2 linked regions of the Homo sapiens genome follow. The protein of the gene in region 1 interacts with the protein of each later gene in a pairwise test. Each region holds a gene or a part of one and is shown in the gene's direction. Other genes may lie near its edges. The genes, in order: SLC39A13 and F2RL1.

Region 1 (4,395 bases):
AATCATTTGCATATTGTGAAGTGCTTTGCATAAGATGGAGCGCTTTTGCATACAGGGAGGGGGGCATTTTAGAAGTCCTAGGGCAGGATCCCTGAGTAGCTTTTCTTTGCCAAGAAACTAACCCAGGGATTCCATTTTGGAACTCAGGGAGGGAACAGAACGTCCTGGCAGTTGTATGGGCCCGGTGGGGTGAGATGGACAGAAAGCTTCAGAAGACAAGCTGGGCCACCAGGGAGAAGTTGGCGGTCTAAGGAAGGCCAACAGTGCAACATGAAGTGGGACAGGCACCAGAGGCAGCCCTGAGAGCTGAGTGTGCTCTCAAGAGCCCCAGCAGAGGGGAAAGTGACAGAGTAAATGGTTGGAGCTGCCATGGGAGGCTGATGAGGGTCAGAGACTTAAGAGACCTGTACTCAGTCGCTATCTCTGCCCAAGTGAGTACCCACATGCCCCTTCCTGAATCTTCTCCTGTACTGGCTGATTTCCAGAGAAGAATACAAACTCGAAACGCCAAGCCAGACTCCCACTGCTGTTCAGGACCTAGACGTGAGAAGTGGTATCACATACTCTGGCTTCAGGACACCCAGGTTTGAATCCTGGCTCTGCCATCTGTGCCACTGTGTGACCCTGGGCTAACAGTACCCACCACAATGGGATAATATGAGGATTCAGTGAGATAGTGCGAGTAAAGTGAATAGCACATAGTAGGTGGTCAGTAAATTGCGGTTATAAGAACTGCTATCCAGTGTTTGCTGCCTTAGTCTAACCAAAGAGGTCAGGTCTAGCTTCCTCCAGGTGAGGGAAGCACAGAGCCCTCGCCTCCCAGGTTTGGAGTTCCCATCAGCAGGGTCCAGCCACCATGCATTGGACCCCAAAGGGTTACAAGCCCTGGAGACAGTGGCCTGAGGTTCCCAGTGAAAAACCAAAGCATAAAAATAATTCGATGAGTAAGAATAAAATTCCCTCTTCTGAGGTTCCCGGGGCCAGGCCCCTCCCTGCGGCAGGCACTTCCCCTTTCCCTTGCTCATGGAGGAGCCAGGCCGGGCTGACTCAGAGCAGGAGCGCACAGTAGTCCTCCCAGCCCGACCTGGGCGGCGTGGTCTGGCGGCCGGGCGCGCCCCCGTGCGGCCACGGGCAGACTGCGGCCCTGGACGGGAAGCGGCGGCCAGATCCGCAAGCCCCGCAGCCTGGTCGATCGCGGTCCCCGCAGAGCCGCCGCTTCCGTCCCTGCCCAGCCTGGCTGAGCGCGGTGCGTGTGGCTCTCTCACTTCCGACCGACCCTCCCCTCCGGCCCGCAGCCCTGCCCAAACGGAAGTGCGCCCTCTACCCGGGTCCCCCACCGCCGCGAGGCGGAAGCGCCCTCCCGCCGCCACTCCCCCCGACCCCGCGGCACGCGGCGCCTCGGGTTCCGGACAGGCCCCTTGTGACGTGGCCGCGCGCCGGGGGCGGCCCCGGGCCGGGGGCCGGGCGGCCGGGCGGCCGGGCGGGGCAGAGCCTGGGCGGGGCGCGGCACCGCAGCTGGATGGCTGGGGCCGCCCGGATCGCCGCCGCCGCCGCCGCACGGTGAGTGCCAGCAGGACCCTCGGGGCCCGCGCCCCGGGCGTGATGGACCCGGCCGATCCCTCGCCCCGTCCGACTGGTCCTCATCAGACCTGGGCCGGCTCCCAGGACCCGGGAGTCAGGCTCGCCCGCTTCGGCCTCCTCTCCCCCATCGCTCCGCGCCCCACGCCCCATCCCTCCCTCGCTGTCCTCTCCGCGTCCCACCCGCCTCTCTCTAGCTCTCTCACTCTCTACTTTCCTCTCCCCTTGGACTCTCCGTGTATTCCCTCCCGCTAGCCTGTGGTCCCCTCACCTCTGCGTGACCGCCTCGTCCTGGCCCAGTCTTGCCTGTGGTCCCCAGTGGAGCCCCGCTGGCTTCATCAGTGCCCCTGATTAGTTAAGGCCTGGAGGTCCTAGACATGGGCATCTCTGCCACCACCCAGAGGCAGCTGCTTTCTTCCCCTCCCATCTCCATCAGAAGGTGAGGAAACTGAGGCAGGGACATCACCAGCTCAAGGTCACAGCCAGCCTGAGGCAGAGCAGACCACATTTAAACCTCATGCCCGAGTTTCCAGATGGAACTTCTCGCTTGGTTGACTCACGTCCACATCCTGTGATCGGCCGGCTGGGCACATTCCTGCTGCAGGGAGCCCCAGGCCTTCCCTGGCACAGGCAGGGCCTCTGCGCCTCCTCATGCCGGGTACATCCACCTGCACTTTCAGGCTTATCTCGTCCTCACAGCTGAGGCAGGTGATATTGATCCCTGTCCTGCAGATGAGGGCACTGAGGCTCAGAGGGGGGGCTTCAGAGATTTGCCCAGAGTTAGACAGCTCAAAGTGCAGCATAGAATTCACCGTGGGGGCTCTAAAGCCTGCGCTATACAAGAGAGAGGCATCCCCTGGCTAAAGGCTCCTTCCTCATCAGCCCCATCTCCTGTTGCCCTCAGTGCCCTGGGGACATTGGTCTCATGTCCTAGGAAGAAGCGTGGATGGTCTTGCCCTGGCTCATCTGCTCAGTTTCCCCACGTATGTCTCTCTGAATCCACCCCATCCCCTTAGAAGGGGTGCCTCAGTCTCTGGGGTGTCGCGGGCGGCAGGGCCTCCCCTGGCAGCCAGAGACACCCAGCTGGGCCGGGCCGTGCCGCCGGTGGCTGAGGAGAGCCAGCCAGCGCCTCACCCTGTCATTAGGGAAAGTTTAGCCTCAGGCGGAGGTGCTGACACAGTCTGGAGCTGCTCAGAAGGAAAAAATACGCAGTGCTCAGGAGTAGGGTGTGGAGACACAGGGCCCCATTGCTGTGCACCCAGCATTTGGATGCTCAGACGCTCTGGCAAGGACAGCAGGAGGGTGGATGCCAGGGTCCCTTGCGGGGAGGAGGGAGGCGCCACGTTTCCTAAGCAGGTGTGCGGCCAAGGCTGTAGCTCATATAGGTGGCCTTTTGTGTTTTTCAGTACGTGGCATGCCTGGATGTCCCTGCCCTGGCTGTGGCATGGCGGGCCCAAGGCTCCTCTTCCTCACTGCCCTTGCCCTGGAGCTCTTGGAAAGGGCTGGGGGTTCCCAGCCGGCCCTCCGGAGCCGGGGGACTGCGACGGCCTGTCGCCTGGACAACAAGGAAAGCGAGTCCTGGGGGGCTCTGCTGAGCGGAGAGCGGCTGGACACCTGGATCTGCTCCCTCCTGGGTTCCCTCATGGTGGGGCTCAGTGGGGTCTTCCCGTTGCTTGTCATTCCCCTAGAGATGGGGACCATGCTGCGCTCAGAAGGTAGGTGACTCTCCGGTGGCGCCCAGGGCTGGCCAGGGTGTGGGAAGCATGCTGCTGCTCTTCTTAGGAGACCCCAGGTCACAGAGTGTCTGAGATGGAGGGAGAGGATAGAATAGAACTTCTCCCCTTGGTCCTGTAGGAGCTATCTAGCCAGGGGCGGCTGGCTCTGGCTTCCCCAGGAAGCTATGAGCACCTGGTAGCAGGGCCTGCCCCTGGGGAGGGGGTCTAGGAGATGGGGATGTGGGCACGGGTGGGAGCTTTGTCCTGACTACCCTTTTGTACCATGAGCATGTACTGCCCGTTCACAAATAACATGTTGTAACAAAACACGCAGGAGAGCTCTAGGGAGCTGCTAAGAATGCACGTGCCTATCCCCCACCTAAGAGGGGTGGACCAAGGCCCTGGGAATCTGTTAGAAACGAGCATCCCAGGGGCTGGTGCTGCCAGCTGGATGCTCAGGAACCATTCACTTACCAGATGGTTACCCAGCAGCTCTGTGCCAGGCACTGGGCTGAGGGCGGTGCCACAGCTGTGAATAGAGCCCTGCTTGGGCCATGGTCAGGCCTGTGCTCAACCCTCAGAGCAGCCCTGCGGGGTCAGTGCAGGGAGCACCTGGATTATTAGTTCCATTTTACAAGTGGGGATGCACAGGCACAGAGAGGTTCTTTGACCAGTCCAAGGTCACCCAGCCAGGAAATAGCAGTTTCCCCTGGGATCCCACCCCAAACCCAGCTGCCTCTGTCCTCTAGGCCTCAGTTTCTCTATCAAGCCAAAGGGTTGGACATGGCTTTCAGGCAGGCGACTTCCAACCCTGGATGCTGCAAGTCCCCAAATCTCTGCCACTTTTCTGAGAGTGACAGCAGCTGAGAAGAGAAAAATTCCCACGTAATGAGCACTTGCTGTACATATTGTCATTTAATTCCCATAAGAGCCCATAAAAGGCTCACAGCTGTAATCTCAGCAGTTTGGGAGGCTGAGGTGGGCAGATCACCTGAGGTCAGGAGTTCGAGACCAGCCTGGCCAACATGATGAAACCCCGTCTCTACCAAAAATACAAAAATTAGCCGGATGTGGTGGCACACACCTGTAATCCCAGCTACTC
Region 2 (3,701 bases), on another chromosome or scaffold:
GGAGAATCTTAAGGCCAGGAGTTTGAGAACAGCCTGGGCAACATAGTGAGATCCTATCTCTACAAAAAGTAAAAAATTAGCTGGGTGTGATGGTGTGTGCCTGTGGCCTGGCTGTTTAGGAGGATTGCTTGAGCCCAAAAGTTTGAGGCTGCGGTGCATTATGATCGCTCCACTACGCTCCAGCCTGGGTGACAGCGAGACCCTGTCTCATAAATTAAAAAATGAATAAATGAATGTACTTTCATTTGAACAAACCAGTGTTACTGCTGAAACATTTATTTCTGTAATGACCCTTGTCTTCCTTTCTTGTACAGGAACCAGTAGATCCTCTAAAGGAAGAAGCCTTATTGGTAAGGTTGATGGCACATCCCACGTCACTGGAAAAGGAGTTACAGTTGAAACAGTCTTTTCTGTGGATGAGTTTTCTGCATCTGTCCTCACTGGAAAACTGACCACTGTCTTCCTTCCAATTGTCTACACAATTGTGTTTGTGGTGGGTTTGCCAAGTAACGGCATGGCCCTGTGGGTCTTTCTTTTCCGAACTAAGAAGAAGCACCCTGCTGTGATTTACATGGCCAATCTGGCCTTGGCTGACCTCCTCTCTGTCATCTGGTTCCCCTTGAAGATTGCCTATCACATACATGGCAACAACTGGATTTATGGGGAAGCTCTTTGTAATGTGCTTATTGGCTTTTTCTATGGCAACATGTACTGTTCCATTCTCTTCATGACCTGCCTCAGTGTGCAGAGGTATTGGGTCATCGTGAACCCCATGGGGCACTCCAGGAAGAAGGCAAACATTGCCATTGGCATCTCCCTGGCAATATGGCTGCTGATTCTGCTGGTCACCATTCCTTTGTATGTCGTGAAGCAGACCATCTTCATTCCTGCCCTGAACATCACGACCTGTCATGATGTTTTGCCTGAGCAGCTCTTGGTGGGAGACATGTTCAATTACTTCCTCTCTCTGGCCATTGGGGTCTTTCTGTTCCCAGCCTTCCTCACAGCCTCTGCCTATGTGCTGATGATCAGAATGCTGCGATCTTCTGCCATGGATGAAAACTCAGAGAAGAAAAGGAAGAGGGCCATCAAACTCATTGTCACTGTCCTGGCCATGTACCTGATCTGCTTCACTCCTAGTAACCTTCTGCTTGTGGTGCATTATTTTCTGATTAAGAGCCAGGGCCAGAGCCATGTCTATGCCCTGTACATTGTAGCCCTCTGCCTCTCTACCCTTAACAGCTGCATCGACCCCTTTGTCTATTACTTTGTTTCACATGATTTCAGGGATCATGCAAAGAACGCTCTCCTTTGCCGAAGTGTCCGCACTGTAAAGCAGATGCAAGTATCCCTCACCTCAAAGAAACACTCCAGGAAATCCAGCTCTTACTCTTCAAGTTCAACCACTGTTAAGACCTCCTATTGAGTTTTCCAGGTCCTCAGATGGGAATTGCACAGTAGGATGTGGAACCTGTTTAATGTTATGAGGACGTGTCTGTTATTTCCTAATCAAAAAGGTCTCACCACATACCATGTGGATGCAGCACCTCTCAGGATTGCTAGGAGCTCCCCTGTTTGCATGAGAAAAGTAGTCCCCCAAATTAACATCAGTGTCTGTTTCAGAATCTCTCTACTCAGATGACCCCAGAAACTGAACCAACAGAAGCAGACTTTTCAGAAGATGGTGAAGACAGAAACCCAGTAACTTGCAAAAAGTAGACTTGGTGTGAAGACTCACTTCTCAGCTGAAATTATATATATACACATATATATATTTTACATCTGGGATCATGATAGACTTGTTAGGGCTTCAAGGCCCTCAGAGATGATCAGTCCAACTGAACGACCTTACAAATGAGGAAACCAAGATAAATGAGCTGCCAGAATCAGGTTTCCAATCAACAGCAGTGAGTTGGGATTGGACAGTAGAATTTCAATGTCCAGTGAGTGAGGTTCTTGTACCACTTCATCAAAATCATGGATCTTGGCTGGGTGCGGTGCCTCATGCCTGTAATCCTAGCACTTTGGGAGGCTGAGGCAGGCAATCACTTGAGGTCAGGAGTTCGAGACCAGCCTGGCCATCATGGCGAAACCTCATCTCTACTAAAAATACAAAAGTTAACCAGGTGTGTGGTGCACGTTTGTAATCCCAGTTACTCAGGAGGCTGAGGCACAAGAATTGAGTATCACTTTAACTCAGGAGGCAGAGGTTGCAGTGAGCCGAGATTGCACCACTGCACTCCAGCTTGGGTGATAAAATAAAATAAAATAGTCGTGAATCTTGTTCAAAATGCAGATTCCTCAGATTCAATAATGAGAGCTCAGACTGGGAACAGGGCCCAGGAATCTGTGTGGTACAAACCTGCATGGTGTTTATGCACACAGAGATTTGAGAACCATTGTTCTGAATGCTGCTTCCATTTGACAAAGTGCCGTGATAATTTTTGAAAAGAGAAGCAAACAATGGTGTCTCTTTTATGTTCAGCTTATAATGAAATCTGTTTGTTGACTTATTAGGACTTTGAATTATTTCTTTATTAACCCTCTGAGTTTTTGTATGTATTATTATTAAAGAAAAATGCAATCAGGATTTTAAACATGTAAATACAAATTTTGTATAACTTTTGATGACTTCAGTGAAATTTTCAGGTAGTCTGAGTAATAGATTGTTTTGCCACTTAGAATAGCATTTGCCACTTAGTATTTTAAAAAATAATTGTTGGAGTATTTATTGTCAGTTTTGTTCACTTGTTATCTAATACAAAATTATAAAGCCTTCAGAGGGTTTGGACCACATCTCTTTGGAAAATAGTTTGCAACATATTTAAGAGATACTTGATGCCAAAATGACTTTATACAACGATTGTATTTGTGACTTTTAAAAATAATTATTTTATTGTGTAATTGATTTATAAATAACAAAATTTTTTTTACAACTTATTTCTGAGTTGTGCGTTTGTTTTGAGGGAAGGAGTGAGAGAAGGCAGGCAACAGCTTCACCCCTCTAAAAGTGGACACTCACACCAAACTCTGTGACAACGGTTTTTCATTTAAAAATGTTTCAGAGGCCGGGCACAGTGGCACACGTGTGTAATCCCAGCACTTTGGGAGGCCAAGGTGGGTGGATCACCCGAGGTCAGGAGTTCAAGACCAGCCTGGCCAACATGGCAAGAGCCTGTCTCTATTAAAAATACGAAAATTAGCTGGGCGTGGTGGCAGACGCCTGTAATCCCAGCTACTCGGGAGGCTGAGGCAGGAGAATCGCGTGAACCCGGGAGGTGGAGGTTACGGTGAGCCGAGATTGCGCCATTGCACTCCAGCCTGGGCAACAGGAGCGAAACTCCGTCTCAAAAAAAAAAAAAAAGTTTTAGAATTCTTTCTATACCTGCATCTGTAGGTTGACCGCTTTTCAAGGATACAGGCTATTTAACATTTTGGGTATATTGTGATGTATTTAATTAATTCCCTACCAACGGCTCCTTAGGTTGTCATCCCCCCACCCTTCTTTTTTTGACTTTTAAAACAGTGCTGCACCCAGAAGTCCAGAGTCGCTGACAGGTCCTCTGTTATCTAGGTGTTCTCTTCAAGATTCCATTTGGTCATGCAGCCTTGGAGAAATAGGAATGGGATGGAACTTGCCGTGTTTATATTTAATCTCTTACCTTATATGCGTAGTGTTTCTTTTGAGTTGCGCATAAATA

Evidence for each region.
Region 2: the proteins of SLC39A13 (region 1) and F2RL1 interact in a two-hybrid assay, tested with the Homo sapiens proteins (one large-scale study listed by BioGRID and IntAct).

The regions. Positions count from the first base shown.
Region 1 is NC_000011.10:47,407,103-47,411,497, forward strand, and holds the start of SLC39A13 (zinc transporter ZIP13 isoform a precursor), read left to right. Parts: upstream 1-1,487; 5' UTR 1,488-1,560; intron 1,561-1,849; exon of another isoform or gene 1,850-2,180; intron 2,181-2,482; exon of another isoform or gene 2,483-2,524; coding exon of another isoform or gene 2,525-2,561; intron 2,562-2,963; exon of another isoform or gene 2,964-2,984; coding exon of another isoform or gene 2,985-2,992; coding exon 2,993-3,293; intron 3,294-4,395. UniProt on the Homo sapiens protein: Functions as a zinc transporter transporting Zn(2+) from the Golgi apparatus to the cytosol and thus influences the zinc level at least in areas of the cytosol. May regulate beige adipocyte differentiation.
Region 2 is NC_000005.10:76,832,376-76,836,076, forward strand, and holds the end of F2RL1 (proteinase-activated receptor 2 preproprotein), read left to right. Parts: intron 1-314; coding exon 315-1,426; 3' UTR 1,427-2,940; downstream 2,941-3,701. UniProt on the Homo sapiens protein: Receptor for trypsin and trypsin-like enzymes coupled to G proteins.